Regions from separate parts of the Homo sapiens genome. Here region 1 is linked to region 2. The links come from fine-mapping of genetic effects on gene expression. Tissue or cell type: whole blood. Region 2 holds a variant in brackets; the other region holds the start of a gene. All regions are shown on one strand. Distances are between the middles of the regions. Region 1 holds the start of CAPRIN2 (caprin family member 2). Region 2 overlaps CAPRIN2 (caprin family member 2).

Evidence for each region. PIP is the estimated chance that this variant, and not a neighbour inherited with it, causes the effect.
Region 1: it holds the start of CAPRIN2, and the variant in region 2 is fine-mapped to the expression of CAPRIN2 in whole blood (TOPMed, PIP above 0.99).

What each region holds. Positions count from the first base shown.
Region 1 is chr12:30,749,123-30,759,972 of GRCh38, reverse strand. CAPRIN2 (caprin family member 2) reads left to right here and starts at 5,022. Exons shown (of 19, transcript NM_001385503.1): 1 at 5,022-5,222; 2 at 6,414-6,629; 3 at 8,840-8,902. The coding sequence starts at 6,453. LOC645485 (a long non-coding RNA gene) reads right to left here and starts at 4,899. Exons shown (of 2, transcript NR_135046.1): 1 at 4,702-4,899. RefSeq lists silencers at 3,494-3,697, 4,789-5,468 and enhancers at 5,396-5,565, 5,569-5,648.
Region 2 is chr12:30,712,568-30,723,146 of GRCh38, reverse strand. It overlaps CAPRIN2 (caprin family member 2), which reads left to right. Exons shown (of 19, transcript NM_001385503.1): 13 at 2,232-2,336; 14 at 3,922-4,068; 15 at 6,471-6,639; 16 at 8,006-8,188; 17 at 9,262-9,362. Among named protein-coding and RNA genes, the nearest start is that of IPO8, 22 kb to the right of the region's middle. The variant T/C (reference allele first, on the strand shown) is at 3,032.

The DNA of each region.
Region 1 (10,850 bases), 37 kb before region 2:
CCCAAAGCTAATCCGAAGTTAAAGTTTATTTAATTAATTAATTAATTAATTAATTTATTTATTTATTTAGAGACAGAGTCTTGCTCTGTCCCCCAGGCTGGAGTGCAGTGGCATGATCTCGGCTCACTGCAAGCTCTCCCTCCCGGGTTCACGCCATTCTCCTGCCTCAGCCTCCCAAGTAGCTGGGACTGCAGGTACCCGCCACCACACTCGGCTAATTTTTTGTATTTTTAGTAGAGACGGGGTTTCACCTGTTGGCCAGGATGGTCTCGATCTCCTGATGTCATGATCCGCGCGCTTCAGCCTCCCAAAGTGCTGGGATTACAGGCGTGAGCCACCACACCAAGTTTATTTTAATAAAAAGATGCTCATTATATTTTAAGTCAAAATAGCAGAATTGCAAAATGTTTAGTACATTCCCATTTTTGTAAAAAATTATACAGATATTTTCTTGGAAATAAGTCTAGAAGAATATAAGCAAAAAGTTAATAATGGTAATCGGTGGAGGGGGCAGCTTTCATGTTTTTGGGAAAATACTTTTTCTGGTTTGGTATAAAAACTAAACATATGCTATAAAAATAAAGTGAAAACATCTTTCAGCCTTTTCCATGCATATTTAAAATGAAATATTTTACAAAGTCACAATCTTACTAAATGTTTTATACCGTGTTTTATCCTGCCCTTTTTTCACTTCATATAATATCATGTCATTGAATATTCTTTGAAAAGATGATTTGTACTACTTGAATTAAAATTCATGGCTTAGAGTCACATTATTTAGCCATTTCTCTATTGTTGAGTGTCTAGGTTGTTGTTTACAATTTCCCACCACTTAAAAAAATGTGGTGCCTAGCATTTTCATAAATAAGTGATTGTTTGCATCTCTGATTATTTTGATAGGGGAGATTCCTAAAATAAAGGCTACTGGATCAAAAGATATGAATATTTTAAAATGTCTTTCTGAATGAATTCCTTTGAAGACACTGTAACACTGAATTGCTTATTCTTTTTGGTTTCAATCTTCAAGTTTAATTGCCTATTTCTATACTTTATTTACTCCATGGAAGCAGCAAGGGAAAGGGATGAAGCGGCCTGGAGTGCATGTTGCATTAGAGGGCAGAAGACCTAGATTCTTTAGGTCTTGGAAAACTCACAAATGTCCACCAGCTTTATATACCTTGTCTTTCAAATAAGGGCGGGGGGGTGGGATTCCTTAGCCATAAATTCCACAGTTCTCTAGTTCTCCTTGGCTACTAGGAGAAATGCTGGGCTTCGTATTATGGCAAAAGCAGCAAATACAGGTATCTCAGTGGAGGATATGTTTTCATGGCCTAGTCTCTAGTCAGATGCTTTTACAGAAACGAAATGAAATCCTTAACAATGCTGTTAATAGGTAATATTATGTTTGTTTTATTATCAGCAGTTTTACAGCTGAAAAAACTGAAGCCCACAGAATTTCAGTCACTTGCCCAAGATCATTCAGCTAGTAAGGGGCAGGAACAAGAATCCAATCCATGTGTGTCTGGCTCCAAAGCCCATGCTGTTGACACTTTATAATACTTCAAAGTTGGACAGAAATCATATTTTTATGGGCTTGATATTATTGATTTAATGACACACATTCATAAGTTCTACACTGATTACTCCTCCTCTAAAGAACTTTTATTTCAAAGGTACTTAATGGTGGAGCACTATTAATGCATTAACTTCAATATCAGAAAAACAGTATCAACAAAACCAATAGGAATGTATAATTTTATGAAAAAATAAGCCTACCAAATTATTAATCTTACAAACTAGATATTTCTCTAAAAATACCCTAAACTATTATGGCAAGTTTTTTTTCCTACCTGAGGTCTATATTTCTCAGTTCTTTACTTTCATAAAAAGTTTCTCAAATATTTGAATAGACACTCTATGAATCAGCAAGTATGTGAAAGTACTGTATATATATATATATATTTTTTTTTTTTTTTTTTTTTTGAGACAGAGTTTCGCTCTTGTCATCCAGGCTGGAGTGCAGTGGCGCAATCTTGGCTCACTGCAACCTTCTCCTCCTGGGTTCAAGCGATTCTTCTGTCTTAGTGTCCCAAGTAGCTGCGATTACAGGGGCGCACCACCATGCCCGGCTGATTTTTGTATTTTTAGTACAGATGGGGTTTCGCCATGTTGGCCAAGCTGGTCTTGAACTCCTGATTTCAGGTGATCTGCCTGCCTTGGTTTCCCAAAGTGCTGGGATTACAGGCGTTAAGCCACCACACCCGGCCAAAAGTACTATCTTTTTAACAACCTTATGTTATTGTTCCTGTCTTTTTCTTTCTTAGCCTTCTTATTATTTTTCTTGGTGACTTTCTCCCTCTCTCTCTGTCTCTTGGTGGCAATTCTCCACAAAGTCTCGTAGAGCCAATAAGAAACAGACTTCTATCACCCACAACCATGTGTCTAAGATAATTTCTCATATCTCTACTAACACGCTACCAGGTTTCACATCCTTTGGTGGATTTATCTTTCCAGTTTCAACAATATGAAGCTATATTAATTTTAAGTGACTACAGCATAACCATCCCTGCAGCAATTGAACATTTGTCAGACAGTGCATATTTAACACCTTCACATTTTCAAAGGACGTAAAGTCTGGCTGTTTTTGTAGAAATCAAACCATCCATTATTAAAGTCTTTAGTATTTTTGTCTTCGGGTTTTTTGATTTGGTTGTTTTTGCCATTTACATCTATAGCTTTTACTGAATTCCCACTTAGCTCCACGAAGGCAGAAGCTATATTGTCTCAGTCACCATTATGCCTTATCACCTACTACATAGCAAGTGCTAAGTAAACATCTGTTGAATGAATAAATGAATATATTCTTCTATCAATGATTCGAGACAACACTTTTTATCATATTTCCAATATAGTTATTCCTTGCTAAGCTTGGAGGTGGCATGCCACAGATACTGCCTCACAGTTGGCAAGAAAAGTCACGGTCTTACAGAAAATAGGGAGTGGGAGAGGGTAAAATAAACTAAACTCCTGACAAATAAAAGTTTTGGGGACATGTGCTTTCAAAGTAAGCCAGACTTACTGACTTTAAAGATCTCCTCTAGCAGAAAAGCTTTTATCTGAATCATCTTTTTAACTTGTTCAGAAGACATTGCTTCAAGAGTATCTACTGTGGTATGTTCTCCTACAAATGTCACGCCATACGTATACAGACTGTACCCTACTGGACTTGAAATTCAATTATTTTTGCTTTTGCATTCTTTCGTGATGCATTTTTATAATCCTTCCTGAGAAGTAAATCTGTATGGATTTATTCATTTAGAAGAATATCCATTTAGTAGAAAATTTAAAATTTACGGCCTCCTTTTTGCCTGACCGATTAGAAGGCAAACATTTCTTTCTTTCTTTCTTTTTTTGAGATAGAGTCTTGCTCTGTCACCCAGGCTGGAGTGCAGCGGCACAATCTCGGCTCACTGCAGCGTCCGTCTCCGGGTTTCAAGCGATTCTCCTGCCTTAGCCTCTGAGTAGCCATGATTACAGGCACATGCCGCCATGCTCGGCTAATTTTTGTATTTTTAGTAGAGATGGATATTCACCACGCTGGCCAGCCTGGCCTCGAACTCCCGACCTCAGGTGATCCACCCCGCCTCGGCCTCCCAAAGTGCTGGGATCACAGGCTTGAGCCACTGCGCCGGCAGGGGGCAAACATTTCATGATTAATCTGACTGAAATACCATTTTTAGGTTCATCATTAGCTCGGACTACAACTCAGGCTGTGCTGTAACTTTGTGTCAACTCATTGATCCAACAGTGTGTCCTTCACATTTTTTCTTATGGCCACTGTTTTTTGTGTTACCAAAGGTGAAGGCATAGCCTTCCTCTCCTCATGTTCAGCATCTTCTGCGTTTCTCTGTTTATAAACAATGAGAAAAAGGGAAAATCTAGTATTTCTCTGACCCTGAAGAACACATATGGGATTCAGAGATTCAAAGTTAAAATGCAACATTAGGGTACATTATGTCACCAGGGACCGAAAAGAACACGGATAATAGATGCCAAAAAAATGTATTAAGTAATGTTAAAATTAATTTGTGTGAAGTTGACCAAGGCTTTTAAAACTAGACCTTTGTTTCCTTGATTCTTCTTCTGAATTTTCTGTTCTTTTGCTAGTCTCAATATTTTTTATCAGAGCGTCAGGGACAATCAGGACCTAAAAAACTCCACTTGGTGTAATAAGTAAACACATGTTGGGGCAAAGTATTGCTGAGTGTGTGTGTGTGTTTCTTATTTGGTATCAGAAACACCTTCCTTTCCTCAATAAACTTTTACATATTTCCAGACTTTTCTCTTAATTTTATGTAACCTTACAAAGATTTTTTACAGCTTTCTCTGCGTGCCAGTCAATTAATGTGTGTCACATGAACAAATAATACGGCTTGAATAAACTCAATCCTATTATTGCAGGTTGCGAAGTCACCTACTCCGTTTTTATGGCGATGCTGATTTGGGGCATTCTGCTCTTACAGGCTGATTCCCCGGTAAGGAAACGGTGTTTTTTCCCCATCCTACTATGAAAGATGCTATCTGAGGGGCAAAGGCGCATCTGCATTTCACGACTACCCACTAGGCTACGACAGCCTCAAGCATGGCTTATCTGGTAGTTCCGCGAAGGGCTCGCTGCCCTCCTGGAGCTATTGGAGTCACCTGTTCAAGGTCGCGAAACCACCGGTGCCGCCGGCAATCAGCGAGGTCCAGCGGGGCTGCGCGGTTTCCGGCCTGCCGGCGTTCGGCGTCGCCTCGGCCCCACCTGGTGCCCCGCAATCTGCGCAAAGGCTGGGAGACCGCGCCCTCTCCCGACCTACCACCAGCCCAAGCTGGGCCCGGAACTAACACCCGACAAGCGCTGGCGGCCAGCTGCAGCCGGGAAGGAGCACCGGAAGGAGGCGGTGGCGGGGCGGCCGAGGGCGGAGCGGGCCGGGGCGGGGCGCGGCCTACAAAAGCCACGCGCGGCGCGGTGGGCGGGCCTGGGCGCGAGCGGCTGAGTCGGCTGGGTCTCTGGCGCCGCAGAGGCCGCGGGCGAGGACCGGGAGGGGAGAGGGAGGAGACAGGAGGAGGAGACGCGAGTGCGGGGTGGCGCCGGTCCACCTCCGCAGCGCTCCTGCCTCCCCCAGGCTTTGGAAGGCGGGCCCGGGCTGCGGCAGCGGCGGCCTCGGCTGCCTGGGGAGGTGAAGTCGGGCTGCGGCGGCCTCGGTCGGCGCGGCGGAGGGAGGCGGCTGACCCGGCGAGGGTGGGCAGGTCTGGGCGGCCGGCGCCGCTGCGAGGTGGAGGGGCGGCTTGGCATCCCCGGGGCGGGGCGGGGCTCCCGAGGGCCGCGGTCGGTGCGTTTTCCGCAGGTCAGCCTCCCCCGGGGCCTTGCAGAAGCGGCTTCTGCGTACCCGGGGCGGCTGTGGGAAGGGTGGGGGTCGGTGCCTGCAGGGCTCTCCGTGGCCGCTCGGGAGAGGTGCTCTTCGCTCAGGCTCCCCCGGAGACTTGAGGGGGTGCGCGCTGGCGTGCATGGGGCCTGTTCTGTCCTTGGTTTGGGGATGCTCCTAAGGGGGGAGAAAGGGATACCTCGGGTGCTTGGAGGTCGAGAGACGGATACGTAAGTGCGCAAGGGCCACTGATTAGGGCACGGGAAGGGCTCGCTAGAATGAGCTCTTAAACTGGTTGGGTGTAAGCGGTTTTGGGCTAGTCTAAACCAAACAACTGAGAATAAACGCGGGGTTCCTGCAGGTTGAGAGAGTACCTGTCTGCAAATGTCCAGTAGTGATGGATTGCCTTGTAGGCCCCAGAGCAATCGGGGAAGTTAGCATTCTTGTTCAAGAAGCTGCTGGTTCACTTAGAGCTATAAAAGAATGTTGTGAGTTTGGATTTTCTTCCAAACGTTCAGGATTGAGGTTAGGGCTGGTGGTGAGGGATCATGTAAAGAGGTTTGAGTGGCTCAGCCTTAGGTCCCGGTGTGGAAAGCTTATTCTTTTGGTGTCATCACGTGGCCATGGGAATTATTTAGAATGTGATCTGCCCTCATGAGAAGAAAGGAGCTCTGAAGCCGTTGCAGTTCTTCCTCCCTATGTGGAAAATCGAATTTCTGGAAACATCCTCCGTATTGGGAGATTTTGCCTATGTAAAGGCTATCCTTATTGGCTAGCGGCACTAATTACTTTAAAAGTAGGATGGAAGTACAAGTATCTCAAGCATCATTGGGTTTCGAGCTCACTTCTGTGGAAAAGAGTTTAAGGGAGTGGTCTAGACTTTCCAGGGAAGTTATTGCCTGGCTGTGTCCCTCTAGTCCTAATTTTATACTTAACTTTCCCCCACCTCCTTCAGCCTCATCTGTTTCAATGGTGCAACTCTTTTCATCCCCTTTTGGTTACCAGTCACCTTCAGGCCATTCAGAGGAGGAAAGAGAGGGGAATATGAAGTCAGCCAAGCCCCAAGTGAACCACAGTCAGCATGGGGAAAGCCAGCGGGCCTTGAGCCCCCTGCAGTCTACTCTGAGTTCTGCTGCATCTCCTTCCCAAGCGTATGAGACCTATATTGAAAATGGACTCATATGCCTTAAACACAAAATTAGAAACATCGAGAAAAAGAAGGTAACTTTTTTTCTTCCAGTCCTGTAGATGCATGATCTTAAAGATTAAGGAGCTGACATTTTTCTTTCAGAGCTCATAGGTGTTCTCTACTAAAAATTTAACTAACCTTAGGTTTAGCTGCTTTAAACAAGCAGGTTACGTGTTGGAAATATTAAACATTTTCTGTTTCATTTGTCAAAACAACGGAATAAAAATATTCTTCATAGTTACATTATGCATGCTGCTGTTGAAATACTTTAAGAGCTAGCTATTTTAGGTGAGATTAATTCCTTATGTAGTATTAATGTTTCTTTTCATAGATGTGTTAATAGCTGATTTTTTAGCTTGTTTTCCTTGTGACTTTCTGCAGCAGTTGATATTGCAGTATAACTGCTGCAGTCGTTGGAAGGTTTAACCGTAGTAGAACTAGAAAATGTTTTACCACTTACTTTTGTGGTGTTAGGTGAAGATTTAAGATTGCTAGGTGAAAGCGTGGTAGTCAGCCTTGTAAAGAGACCCAGGAGTTAAGCCTAGCTACAGAAAATGCTGTTGTAAAGATCTAAATCCTTCTTCATTTCCTGAGTCATGTAGCCTGTGAAACAGACTGCACGTTGCTTTGCTGTATTACGTTTCTCTTCTGCTTTTGGACAGGTGAGGTTGAGTGACTATCTGGACCTATGTGTTGTTAAGTACTTTTGTGCCAAGACCTAGTTAGACCTTAAAGTTGCTTTTAATGGAGGAGTGTGAAGAGACTCTTTAGAGTCTGGTTGACTCTTTTTTTTTTTTTTTTTTAACCTAAGAAAGTAAAGAAGGGCAAGTTGCTAGTAGCTTCTCTGTAGCTCTCACCATTTATCTTTTTAACGTATGCAGTTGATCACAAGTGTGGTAAGGTGAGTGTGCCAGGTCAGCACAAATTCCCCATCACTGTGATAAATGATCAAAGCAGGATCTATTGACGGAGCCTCCCTCAGGTGGAGGAACTACATATATGTATGCTTATGCTCTCTAGCTTACCTATAGTACCTCTTTAATTTTGAATACCAGATAGTACGAGTACTTTTGTTTCAACCTTCTGGGAAAGAATTTTTCCACTAAAGCCAATACAGGAGGAACCTAAAGAATGCTTTTAGAGTACCATAGTGGGTCCGGGTGCAGTGGCTCACACCTGTAATCCCTGCGCTTTGGGAGGACAAGGCAGGTAGATCACCTGAGGTCAGGAGTTTGAGACTAGCCTGGCCAACATGATGAAACCCCGTCTCTACTAAAAATACAAAAAGAATTAGCCAGGCGTGGTGGGGGGTGCCTGTAATCCCACCTACTCAGGAGGCTGAGGCAGGAGAATCGCTTGAACCCAGGAGGTGGAGGTTGCAGTGTGCCGAGATCGCGACACTGCACTCCAGCCTGGGCAACGGAGTGAAATTCTGTCTCAAAAAAAAAAAAAAAAAAAAAAAAAAATACCATAGTGGGTTTATGTCATTATTATGGGGCCAACAAATGCAATTTATTTTTCATAATTTCCTTAAGTATCAAATATAATATGAAAAATAACTTCAAGATGAGCCTACTCTATGATAATGATAGAAAAGAATTCTTGGTGTTTCTGTACTTCCAATAGGAGTTTCTTTTTAGGAAAATGCCACATAATTCAACAGGTAACTGAACTAATAGTTTAAGCATGAGATTAGAGTAGGACTTCGTAACCTCTACACCACTGACATTTTGTACAGGATAATTCTTCGTTGTAAAGGGCTGTCCTGTGCATTTTAAGATGTTTGGCAGCATCCCTGGCCTCTAACCACAAGATACCGGTAGCACTCTTCACCTCCCTTCCCCCTCCCAAGTTGTGATAACCAAAAATATCCCTAGATATTGCCAGGTATCTTTGGGGGACAAAATTGTTCCCTGTTGAGAAGCTACTGTGTTGGGGACACATGATTTAGTAGGTAAGTCCCCATGGGTTAAGTAGTCTAGTTATTAATAGAGTCATTAAGAGAAAATAGTTTTATTACTGCTTAGGTTTTGTAATTCCAGACTCATGTGATTCTGTGTATTTTTTCTCCCCTGACTGGAACTCATCTACAGTTGCTGCATGCCGTATAGTAAAATGATAGTCTTGCAGATTGATAGCTTACTTCAAGGACTTTGTTTCCTAGAGACAAGATCTGGCATTTACTTTATTTGCTTCTGAATTTTATGTCAGACTATGGTAGATACAAGTTTCTCTTTTGTAGCTCAAACTGGAGGATTATAAGGATCGCCTGAAAAGTGGAGAGCATCTTAATCCAGACCAGTTGGTAAGTGGCTTATGATCTTTTAGTAAGACTTGCTGGTTTTCTTTTCTTAATAAAACTACATGGATTTAGTGCGATCAGTCTTTATAGCACACACACACACAGTTAAAATCCATAGTTTGTTCAAAACTGTTTCAGAAGACTTTGTTGTTTGTGCCTGTTAGATCTCAGATATGACTTTTTGTTCTGTTGACTAGAAGATGGTACGCATGGGGGTGTAGATTGTTAACAGGAGTGAAAGTGTAGACTGTCACTACGAGTTAACATACAGATTTAAGTTAAACTTATGTGCCAGAGTGGACTGAAGGAGAAGAGAAGGCATACTCTACCTTTCAGCTCTTCACTGGTATATTCTAAACCTGACATCTTTCTGCTCCAGAATGTGAAAGAATATTTACTGTAGCTTACCTTAGTTTTCTCTAGCTGCCTCACCTTAATTCCTTTCATGGTCTCTTCCTACTTTTCTATCCTGGGTTTTCGTGTGCCCTCTCAGGAGGCATATTATCTGATAGATATCTGGCCTTTAAAAAAAAAAAAAGCTTACTATAAACATTAAGCTACTTGCATTTTTTTCCATCGGTTAACTTCTCAATGATATACCTGGTAATTGCAAATTTTATGTAATTTGTGAAGGAGAGTTTTTGCAGCGCGGAAAGAAAACAGTGCTTCGTGGATGTTTGCCATTTTGACTTGATCATGTCTCCTGGCTAAGAAGGGACACATTTATTTGAAAATTATTTCCTCTTGTTTGTGGGTCTTTTGTCTTTATGTTTTTCAACTGAAATCTTTCGCTATACATCATAGATACTGACATTCAAGGACTTTTCCCATTCCATAGTGACTCCTCTTCACTGACCCAGAATTTTTGTGATGTAGTAAGTTATAATTTTGCTGAGACACATATTTGAATTGTGTGAGCTCTGCAAATGGTGCGCTCACTTAGCTGGGGAGAGGGCTTAGCTGGACATGCAGCATTTCAGCATAGCTTTGTTTTAAAATCACGGTGTGTTCAATAACTCTTAAAGTGATAAAACTTTTTTGTGTGTAAATATTCTTGAATGAAGTGTCCTGTTAGAGTTGTGTTCCTTATTTTTAAGAAACATCGGGGAGAGGGGGTTGGAGATTGATTGTTCCCATGGTAGCTCTCTAAGAAATGTTAAAGACATGCTATATTTCATTGCTCCAGCCAGGCAAACTTCATTCTCAGTATTTCATTACTGTCTTTATAGCCACATGTTGCTTCTATAATAAATGTATGAACTTTGATATCTGGAGTAATACTCTGACAGCTGCCCAATTTATATTGCCAACAGATCAGTCCTCTGAACTCAATATTTCTGTGTCCAGTTGCCTATCCGACACTTCATAATTTTTCCCTGTTCCCCAAAACCTGCTCCTCCTCTAATCTTAGCTATGTCAGTTGATGGCTTGATCAACTAGCAGGAGTTGCCAAAAATCTTGGAGAATTTATCTCCTTTCTCCTCATAGCTCACATCTAGCTCATCAGCAAGTCTGCTCACTTCTCCCTTTAAGATAAATGAGGAAACTGACCATTTCTGCCATCTTCATCTAGGCTATATAACCTTTCATCTGCGTTACTTATTATAGTAGTAATTACTTCTGCCTCACAGGTTTTTCTATTTCTGCCCTCTCCAAGTCTGTTCAACGTAGTAAACTCAGTGATCCTGTACTGATGCAAGTCAAGATGGTTATTCCTCTGCTCAGAAGTCCCCATTTGTTCCCCTCTGGTGGTAAAATGTCCTTAGTGTGTCTACAAAGCCCTACAGAATATCCTTCCCACTTCCTTTGACATTTTGACTCCATTTCTTGCTCTTCTTTCCCTCGCTAGCTCCATTCTAGCTACCCTAGCCTCCTTGCTGCTCCTCAGACATCCCAGGCACACTTCTGCAGGGTTTTTTGCACGTGATATTCCTACTGCTTGGGATGTTCT
Region 2 (10,579 bases):
GTTCTAAGCATATCTAGTTTTGTAGATTAAATACGACTTGTCCTAAAATGATTCCCCGATGACTATGCTGAAAACATATAGTACAGGTTTGCTGACTTTAGTAAGGAGAGACCAAGCCTGAAGAAATCAGAGGGTACCTTGTCTAAGAATATTATGTTCTCTTGAGCTACTTAAGTAATTTAGTTTATTAACATAGTAAAGTGTCTGAAGAAAGAAATTAATTTTTGTTGTTGTTGTTTTATTGAGACAGAGTCTCACTCTGTCGCCCAGGCTGGAGTGCAGTAGCATGATCTCGGCTCACTGCAGCGTCTGGTCTGCCTCACGGGTTCAAGCAGTTCTGTGTCTCAGCCTCCCGAGTAGCTGGGATTATAGGGCCTGCCACCACACCTGCCTAATTTTTGTGTATTTTTAGTAGAGACAGGGTTTCACCATCTTGGCCAGGCTGGTCTTGAGCTCCTGACCTCGTGATCCACCTGCCTTGGCCTCCCAAAGTGCTGGGATTACAGGTGTGAGCCACTGCACTCAGCCTTAATTTTCAAACTGTATTTGTTGAGCAGGGTATATTGGGGTTTTTCCTACTTTCCTCCAATTCACTGACTGCTTTTACTAAAGCAGTTACATTTTTTGTTCTAGCTGTTTAGGGTTCTACATAAGGCTTTCAATTGACAAGGTAAATTTTTTGAAAAGCACTGGTCTAGCTTAGTAGTTCTCTGGTGGAGGCTGTGGGATGGCTGCATCGAAGCCATCCCACTTTATATGTCATAAGGTATACATTTCTAGATAAGATCTTAGACCTGTTGGAGCAGAATTTTCTAGGGTGTTGCCTATATTTTTAAAAGCTTCCTGGATGAATCTTCATACCCATTTTTTGGAACATTGGTTTCAAATATCATGTTTATTCACCAATAACCCACCTCCAACTGGTCTACTTAAAAAGCACTAATTTGGAAGCAGGAACTGCCATCACTTCTAACTAAATACTAATGTAAATGTCTTTGTTATTAAATGAACCTTTTAACTGAAATTGAAGCCATTTTAAGATTAACTATCAAGTGGCCTAAGATGCCTTAATTTAGCATCTGTGAATCTTCCCTTAGCAACAGAGTTAGTTATTTCCCCACAACAGCCAGTTCTACTTTTCTTGGGCACTTGTCTCATTACTTTAATGACAGAGCCAGAAGAACGACCTAGTTTTAGAAACGCTCTAATCTTATAATGGTTCTAATATTTTGGCCAGATCTAAGTTATGCCTATTTACTTGGGTAATATAAAATGTTCTAAAGGATTTCAAATATTTTTTTCCATAAGATCTTAAAACTCAATCCCCAGTCTCCTTCCTAAAAAGCAACATATCATAATGCCTCCTTCAAGAAGGTCACTGAAACATGATTTCTCTGTTTTGTAACCCTTCATTAGTTTCCAGTTCACCTATTTTATTACTTGGGCTTCTGAGAACCACATAGAAGCATTTAGATAAAAGGAGTGGATTCACTGACACTTTAGATCTTGCTATTGCCAGATTTTTATGGGTGTCTCTCTGCTGTATTTGAATACCTGTTGTGCGATAGAATTCTTTCCTAGCCACTCTTTTAATTTTCTGTTGGTTACAGTTGTCACAACTTTTTTTCCTAATGTGCTTTCTCCCAATTTTTATTTTACATATGCTATCAGCTTGATTTTTCACTAGAATTTTTGGTGCCATTCTGATTTATGTAGAGCTTATTCTTCCTATTTATATTTCAGCCTGCCTCTTTAGGATGCTGATAGCACTTAGCATGAAAGCACAGTTATACTATGATCTCTGGCAGAGCTGTGCCTACAGTGTTAAACGTACCCGGAGCTCACCTTCCCGTGAATGCTATCTACTACAGGGCCAAGAATCAGTGAACATGGGATGAGATGTGTAGTTTTGGTGACCAGGCCTGGACAGGCAGTGTAGCTAGCTGGCTGCTTGAGTTTGAATCTCAGCTCTGCCACTTAATTGTAGTATGATCTTGGGCAAATGTCTTAACCTTTCTTTGCCACTGCTTAATTGTCAATAAAATGAGAATAGTACCTACCTCACAGATTACTGTTAGGATTAAATATATTAACACGTATAAAGTGTTTAGCAGAGTGCTTGACACATGTGCGTGTTCAGTAAGAGTAACATATTAGGAAGGCCAGGGCCCAAGAAATATAAAGTGAACAAAATGTGCCTTTTACAATATTTTGTATTTTCCTGTGTCTAGGCTACTTCTTCTCCAGTTACTTGTAGCTCAAATGCTTGCTTGGTTACTACCGATCAGGCTTCTTCTGGATCTGAAACAGAGTTTATGACCTCAGAGACTCCTGAGGTAAAAGACCAATTGTCTTAATTTCTTTTGTATCTTAAAGAATAGCAGAACCAGTTTATCTTATGAATTACAGGCATGATTAGTTGAATGATGTAACATTTATACTTTATTAATGTATTGCTTTCTATAGATATTGTGATCTTGGAACTTTTACAGGTAACTTTATTGTAGCTTTGCCATATAAATAGATTTAATATGGTATTGCCTTATCTAGTGCAATAAATGTCCATTTTTAATCTAAAAAAATGAAAAGTGTAGGTAGCATTAAGTCAAGTTTTCCACTATATTTACACTGAAGGACTTTTAGGAGAAAAGTCTCTTATTTGTATAAATGAAAGCTCAATAACTTTATTTTATTAATATTAGCACTTATTGAGTTGGAATGAGTTACAATCTTGTTTTGGCTAACTTTGTCAAAAATATTTTCGGTCAGATGCAGTGGCTCACACCTGCAATCCCAGCACTTTGGGAGGCCGAGGCAGGTGGATCACTTGAGGTCAGGAGTTCAAGACCAGCCTGGCCAACATGGTGAAGCCCCATCTCTACTAAAAATACAAAAATTAGCTGGGTGTGGTGGCTCATGCCTCTAGTCCCAGGTACTCAGGAGGCCGAGGACAGAGAATTGCTTGAACCCAGGAGGCGGGGGTTGCAGAGATTGTGCCACTGCACTTCAGCCTGGGTGACAAAGTGATACT[T/C]CATCTCAAAAAAAATAAATAAATAAAAACATTTTAACAGTATTATGTTTGTGCTTTCAATTTCAATTCTAAGTTACAGTTTTTACTAAGTTTGAGTAAATCCTTGAGATGGACATAGTAGGATGAATTTTGAGGAGTAATTTAGCAACTATCAGGTATTTTTTGTTAACTGTTATAGAAGAATATGTATTCATTATAGAATATAAGAAAATATAGATAATCCTTAGTTTTTATGGTGCTGGCTTGATCTGAATTTAAATTATCTCATTCCTCATTTTAAGAAGAGGAAGAAGTGATTGTTACCAAGTAACTCACAGCTGTCTGCTTCACAATCTAGTTGAGATTGGTTTTTGGTATTTTTTTTAAGCCTTTGGATTTATAATCTGTTATGTCAAGAACTTGTGGCTTCCTTAGGTAAGGATTACTTAAATTGGATCGGAGTTGTTTTCTGTTTTAGGTAGCTGACTTAGAAACCTACTAACTAATAAGTCTTTAAAATAGAGAAAAATTAACACTAAACAACTAATCCAAGTTTTTTCTTAAATCCAATTCTGATGTATAAATTTTGAATAATATTAGGTTCTTAACTGGAAATTACCATTTCAGGGTTTGAAAAGGACTAGGTGCGTATAAAAAGTTCAGCCCCTCATCTGTTAGACTGATTATTGGTAAGACTCTTTCACTTAGTCAGCAAGCTGTGCAAAGCAAATACTGGTATGCATCCTCAGCAATTGAGATTTGAAATTGTAAGCAAAAGCTATTCTTTTGCATTCCTGTGTCCAAATGTCATCCTAAAGAACTTGCTGACTTATGCCAGTTTGGGTTTTAGAGTAAGTTAACTGCTTGTTATATGGCAGGTGATTGGCTGATGCTGCATTTCTCCTCCCCAGGCAGCAATTCCCCCAGGCAAGCAACCGTCTTCACTAGCTTCTCCAAATCCTCCCATGGCAAAGGGCTCTGAACAGGGCTTCCAGTCACCTCCAGCAAGTAGTAGTTCAGTAACCATTAACACAGCACCCTTTCAAGCCATGCAGACAGTGAGTATGAAACATGAATGATGATTGCAGTTCATTATTCCTGTTAAAAGCCATTGTTTCTCTTACATAATTATTGGATACTATGTGAAAAGTTTGCCTTTTGTAAAATTTATTTGGGTTGGTAGAATTATATTTGGCCAATGGCAGTACTTGTTTGTGGCAGAAGAATAGGAAATCCACAGCCTCTAGAATTTTAAATGGGTGTTTTATCAGAGCATTATTCCTTCTTTTAGAATTAGTAGCAGGCAAAGCTGAGGATCCATATTAAACAAACAAAATGTGTGGGTGAGAAACAGAATTTCTAGCAACAGCTTAATAATACTAACCATTACTAATATCTTTACTAGTATTATTCCCTAACATCAGTAACCTGAAATACCGGACACATACTTGGGTGTTCTGTCATTGCTGAAACTTTCATTTTATTTTATCCTGATCTCAAGATGGTTTTTGGAGATTTGTTCAGATTTGTGTGGTGTTTTGAATTACGTATTTTTCTACAAATTGCAATTAAGGCTTTTTAAAAAAATAATATTACAGCTAGTTTGGTATGTTTATTCTCTAAACACAGACTAGTATAAAACAGTTCTTTGTGGGGGAAAAAAGCCTTAGTGAGCCAATAAGTACCCTTCCTATTGGTGCTTAGTGTCCCACTCCAAGCACTTCGGAGTGATGGTGGTAGTGGGGCCAGTGGAGTAGCATGGAAAGCAGGCACCACCCCGGGAGATCGGCTGGTGAGTCCAGACAGCTGAATTCACTCACCTGATCACTTAGAATATCTTATTTCTAGATAGAATAGTTCCTTGCTTTCACTCTTTTCCTGTCAGTTCATCCTGCACAGTATAGCCACATTGGTTTTACCTTTTCTTTTGTCTAATTAAAAGCAAGCAGTGTTCCATTACAGAATGAAATTTAGTACTCTGACACTCAGTACCTTTTCAAGTCTGTTATAACCTGTCACACTAGTCCCCTGAGCTTGCCTTATATATTCTTGTCACAGTACCTTTTGCTCATGCCAATCTGTTTTCTCTGCCTGTTTGAATCCTACCCGGTACACATTGGTTCTTACTCATTTATTGATTAAAGAATAGTTACAAAACCAGGCACTGTTCTTAATCACTGAGGTTGTAGCAGTGAAAAAAGGAAAGTATGCTCAGGAAACTTAACATTTTAGTATGGAGGTAGGAGGGCTAGGGAGACAAATACCTGTATATCAGGTGCTGTGTGATGTAAAGAAAAATGGAGCAGAATCAGGGAGCTAGAGAGTCATAGAAGGACAGATCGTTGCTTGCCACGTGGTAAAGATTCATTAAATGGTAAAATATTTCATTCATCTTTAGTTTTTGAAAAAAAGACCCCTTACCCTTGTATAGCTTTTATTCTCAGCATTATTATGATAGCATAATAGCAGGAAGATTAACTTTTGCTGTTAGGTGTAAAATCTGTCAGGAATCAAGTAGGAGTGTTTTTTTGTTTTTTTTTTACTATGGTAAAATGTATGTAACAGAATTTACCATTTTAATCTTTTTAAAGTATACAATTCAGTGGCATTAAGTATATTCATAATGTGCAATCATCATCACTACTTTCAGAACTTTGTCATTATTCCAAACAGAAACTCAGTACTCATTAAACAATAACTTCCTGTTTGTAACCCCCTCCACAGCTCTGCTAACCTCTATTCTACTTCGCTTCTATGAATTTACCTATTCTACCTCATATTAGTGGTATCCTACAACATTTTTCCTTTTGTATCTGGCTTACTGCACTTTGCATAATGTTTTCAAAGTTCATTTGCGTTATACAGTGTATCAGGATTTCATTTTTGTATGGCTGAATAATCCATTTTATGTATGTACTTCATTTCGCTTATCCATTCATCTGTTGGGAAATTGAGTTGTTTGTACCTTTTGGCTATTCTGAATAATGCTGCTATGAACATGGGTGTGTAAATATCTGTTTGAGTCCTGCTTTCAGTTATTTTGGGTATATACCTAGAAATGGAATTAGTGGATCATATGTTAATTCTATACTTTTTGAAAAGGCAGCATACTGTTTTCCACAGGGCGACTGCACCATTTTGCATTCCCACCGGCAATGCATGAGGGTTCCAGTTCCTCCGCATCCTTGCCAACACTTATTTTCTGTCTTTTTGATAATAGCCCTGCTAATGGGTATAAAATTTTATGGCATTATGGTTTGGATTTACATTTCCCTAATGACTAATGATGATGAGCATGTTTTCATGTGCTTATTTGCCATTTATCTTCTTTGGAGAGATGTCTATTCAAGTCCTTTGCCTGCAAAATAGAAGTTTTTGAATGTACAATTTTGCTGGATACCACCCTTAAGCATTTTCTTTGAAACTTCCCAAATGACTCAGTGTGTCCTTGTCTTTTAAGGTATTTAACGTTAATGCACCTCTGCCTCCACGAAAAGAACAAGAAATAAAAGAATCCCCTTATTCACCTGGCTACAATCAAAGTTTTACCACAGCAAGTACACAAACACCACCCCAGTGCCAACTGCCATCTATACATGTAGAACAAACTGTCCATTCTCAAGAGACTGGTAAGATCTTTGCATATGATATTTGGAAGACTTAGAGGGACAGCCAATTGAATGGACAGCAAGTCTAGGAAGTCTGTAGTGACACTTTAGAAGTATTTTCCTGACCAGTAAGCATTATTTCTTTACATGTTCCTCCAGTGTTGAGAAAAACCTAATGCCCTTTTTTGTGTTAAGTTTACCTATTAATTTTAATTTTTGTAGAGATAGAACTTAGATGACGGATTTAACCTTGAAGTAGGTTTGTATTTTTAAATCTATTTGCTTTGATTACCACAGACAGTGATTGAGGTAGATGGGCACTATCTGGCTGCTTATATGAAGGTTTTGAAACCATTCTGTTAATCCTTTTAACAAATGGTTATCTGTCCTTTTCTATCTTATAATAAAAGATTGAAGATATGACTTAGTATGCTCATTGTACTGTTTGCTTAGAGATGGGAGGCTATTTTGATTTTTCATGCTGTTCTAAATCATGAAAGAATAGGTAACTTTGTACTCATTTCTTAATTTAAATTTAAGAAGCACTTGTAGATTTTTTGTATTGGTATTTCAGATCCCTATTGAGTTTTTTAACTGAAGTCGGAGCAAATGAATTGAGCATTCTGAGTACTTGGCTAATCAAGTGATGAAGAGGTAGTAATATGAATTCTGGGACCTAGGCATAGATGACCTGATTCTGTTCTCCCCTCTACTGTTGAAAGACAGGGCAGGTGACTTACGTAAGGGATATTTTTGTCAGGTGCCTTCTCAGATATTAATTAGAATCCATTTTCTTTTACTCCCTCATCTGGAGTATTTAGCCTGCTTTTTAAAAATTGTCGTAAAGTATACATAACATAAAAATTACCATTTTAATCATTTTTAACTATATAGTTCTGTGGCATTAAGTACAACCAAACTGTTGTGTAATTATTACCACTGTCCACCTCCAGAACTTTTCATCTCCCCCCAACTGAAACTTTGTAATCATTTAATACTAACTCCTCCTCCTCCTCTCCCCCCAGCCCCTGGCAACCACCATTCTACTTTCTGATTCTGAAAATGACTGCTCTAGGTACCTCATATAAGTGGTATACAATATTTGTGCTTTTGAAACTAGCTTATTTTACTTGGCATGTCTTAAGGGTTCATTCATGTTGTAGCATGGGTCAAAATTTTCTTCCTTTTTTAGGCTGAATAATATTCCATTATATATATGAATTACGTATTTGAGTCATGTAGATGAATTATATACATGAATATATGTATCTCCTATTTATTTTTAAAGGCAGCAAATTGTATTAATGATTTTGATATATATTGGCTTTTAAGTATAAAGACTATTACCATTTAACTCTTGGACCCTAAAATCGTTTTTCTTAAGCAGCAAATTATCATCCTGATGGAACTATTCAAGTAAGCAATGGTAGCCTTGCCTTTTACCCAGCACAGACGAATGTGTTTCCCAGACCTACTCAGCCATTTGTCAATAGCCGGGGATCTGTTAGAGGATGTACTCGTGGTGGGAGATTAATAACCAATTCCTATCGGTCCCCTGGTGGTTATAAAGGTATGCCCTGAATAAAATTGAATTATACTGAATTATTTTGTCTGTGTGTTTACTTGACTCACACCATTTTTACCTAACCTTGCTCCCTTTTGTCATTTGCAACGTAGTAGAGAATTTCCTGTTTGTGGATAATAAAGTATTTTTAATATACCTATTCTCCATAACAGAGGAACTAATTTTCTGTATGAAAAGCAGATTGATTTTGTGACTTACTGAAGTGGAAAGTTTCACCATATTGTTTTACAAAGGATGAATTTTCATATTTGAGTAATGTTTTTCTTTTGTTGACTTAACTCTGCTAAAAGTGTATCATATTTACAAGATGCCCATTTTCTAATTATTTCTAGTTATTTGTTAGATTATGTCACAAAGAAGAATATAGAATTTGAGACTATAATAGTGATATTCTCTTAAACTGTTGTTATGGTTCCAAGTGTCCTAGTCACTACTTATTATTAACAAAAATACTCTAGACAGGCTGGGTGTGGTGGCTGACGCCTGTCATCCCATTACTTTGGGATGCCAAAATAGGAGGATCATTGAGGCCAGGAGTTTGTGACCAGCCTGGGCAACATAGTGAGACCCTACCTCTACAAAGAATTAAAAAATATTAGCTGGGCATGGTGATATGCACCTGTAGTCCCAGCTACTTGGGAGGCTGAACTGGGAAGAATGCTTGAGTCCAACAGTTTGAGGTTACAGTGAGCTGTGATCTCACTACTGTGCTCCAGCCTGAGTAACAGAGCGAGGCACTGCCTATAAAAAAGCAAACAACAACAAAACAACCCTAGACAGAGGCCCTAAGTACCTAACTGCCCTACCACCACCCTTTCCCAACCCCACCTTGCATTTAGCAGTAGTAAATTTATAAACCTGGCTTATTTGAAGACAGCAATGTTCTATAAATATGTTTTACTTTGGAAGCAATATTAGTAGAGTTTGCTTAAAGAGGGCATAAGTCTAATGATGGCATTATATAATCAATTTAACTTTTAAAGCAATATAGAATTAGACTGTTTAAAAGTTTAATATGATTTTGTCCATAATCTTATGTAAGTTTGTTTATTTATTAGGTTTTGATACTTATAGAGGACTCCCTTCAATTTCCAATGGAAATTATAGCCAGCTGCAGTTCCAAGCTAGAGAGTATTCTGGAGCACCTTATTCCCAAAGGGTAAGTAAGAATAGTTGTCATAGTTGAATAGTGGTACAGTTGTTGATGTTAAGCTGGTGATTGAAGTATATCGCAGAGTCATAATTTGTTTTCTGAAAGTGCACTCTTAGTTTTAAAACTACTTGTAAGTCCTATGGAGAAGAGTTGAGTTGGAAGTTTTTGCAATTACCCAAGAAAGATAAATGATAATTGCTTGTTATGTGGAACTTAGAAGGTGTTAAGGACATTATTAATCATGTTGTTTGCATTAACTCATTTGCTCTTCCACCTCACAGGAGAAATGGGTTCAGAGGTTAAATAACTTACCTAACGTCACTTATCAAGGAAATGGTAAACTAAGATTAGAATGTGACTTTCTTACTCCAGAGCCCATGATTTTAACTTTACTACATTGCCTTCAGCTTAACTTGCCTAAATAGCAAATGTAGCAAAGCCCTTTTTCGTTAAGTTTTTTGTTGTTGTTTATACTTACTTGAAGAACCCAGCATATTTTCTTTACTACATATGGTAAAAGACTCATAAGAGGATGTTAGAAATTCCACTTTAACAAAACTTGGGAACTTACGGATTTGAATCTATAATACATCAGCATATTCAGTTTTGAAGTTTTACAAGCTTTTGAGTATGTGTATGGTACCATACTGAGTTCTGTTGGTAATATATAAAATACCTATCCTTGAAGAACTTACAGTTACATAGGGTAGGATGGATATCCACACAGAGGCAGTATTGAAAAGGGTGAAGGCCAGGCGTGGTGACTCACGCCTGTAATCCCAGCACTTTGGGAGGCTGAGGCAGGTGGATCACTTGAGGTCAGGAGTTCGAGACCAGCCTGACCACCAACAGGGTGAAACCCCATCTCTACTAAAAATCAAAATTAGCCGGACGTGGTGGCACACGCCTTAATCCCAGCTACTCAGGAGGCTGAGGCAGGAGAATCGCTTGAACCTGGCAAGTGGAGGTTGCAGTGAGCAGAGATAGCGCCATTGCACTCCACCCTGGGCAAGAAGAGCGAGACTCTGTCTCAAAAAAAAAAAAAAAAAAAAAAAAAGAGTGGAAAACATCTTGGAATCTAAATGCCTTGGGTTTGACCCCTCATTTATCACTTCTCTTGCCATGTGACCTCAGATAAGTTAGTGAAACTTTTTGAGCTCTAATTCCTCATCTGTTAGTTTTTCATCTAACACTGAGGTATTCTCCATGAGATATTCTGAGAA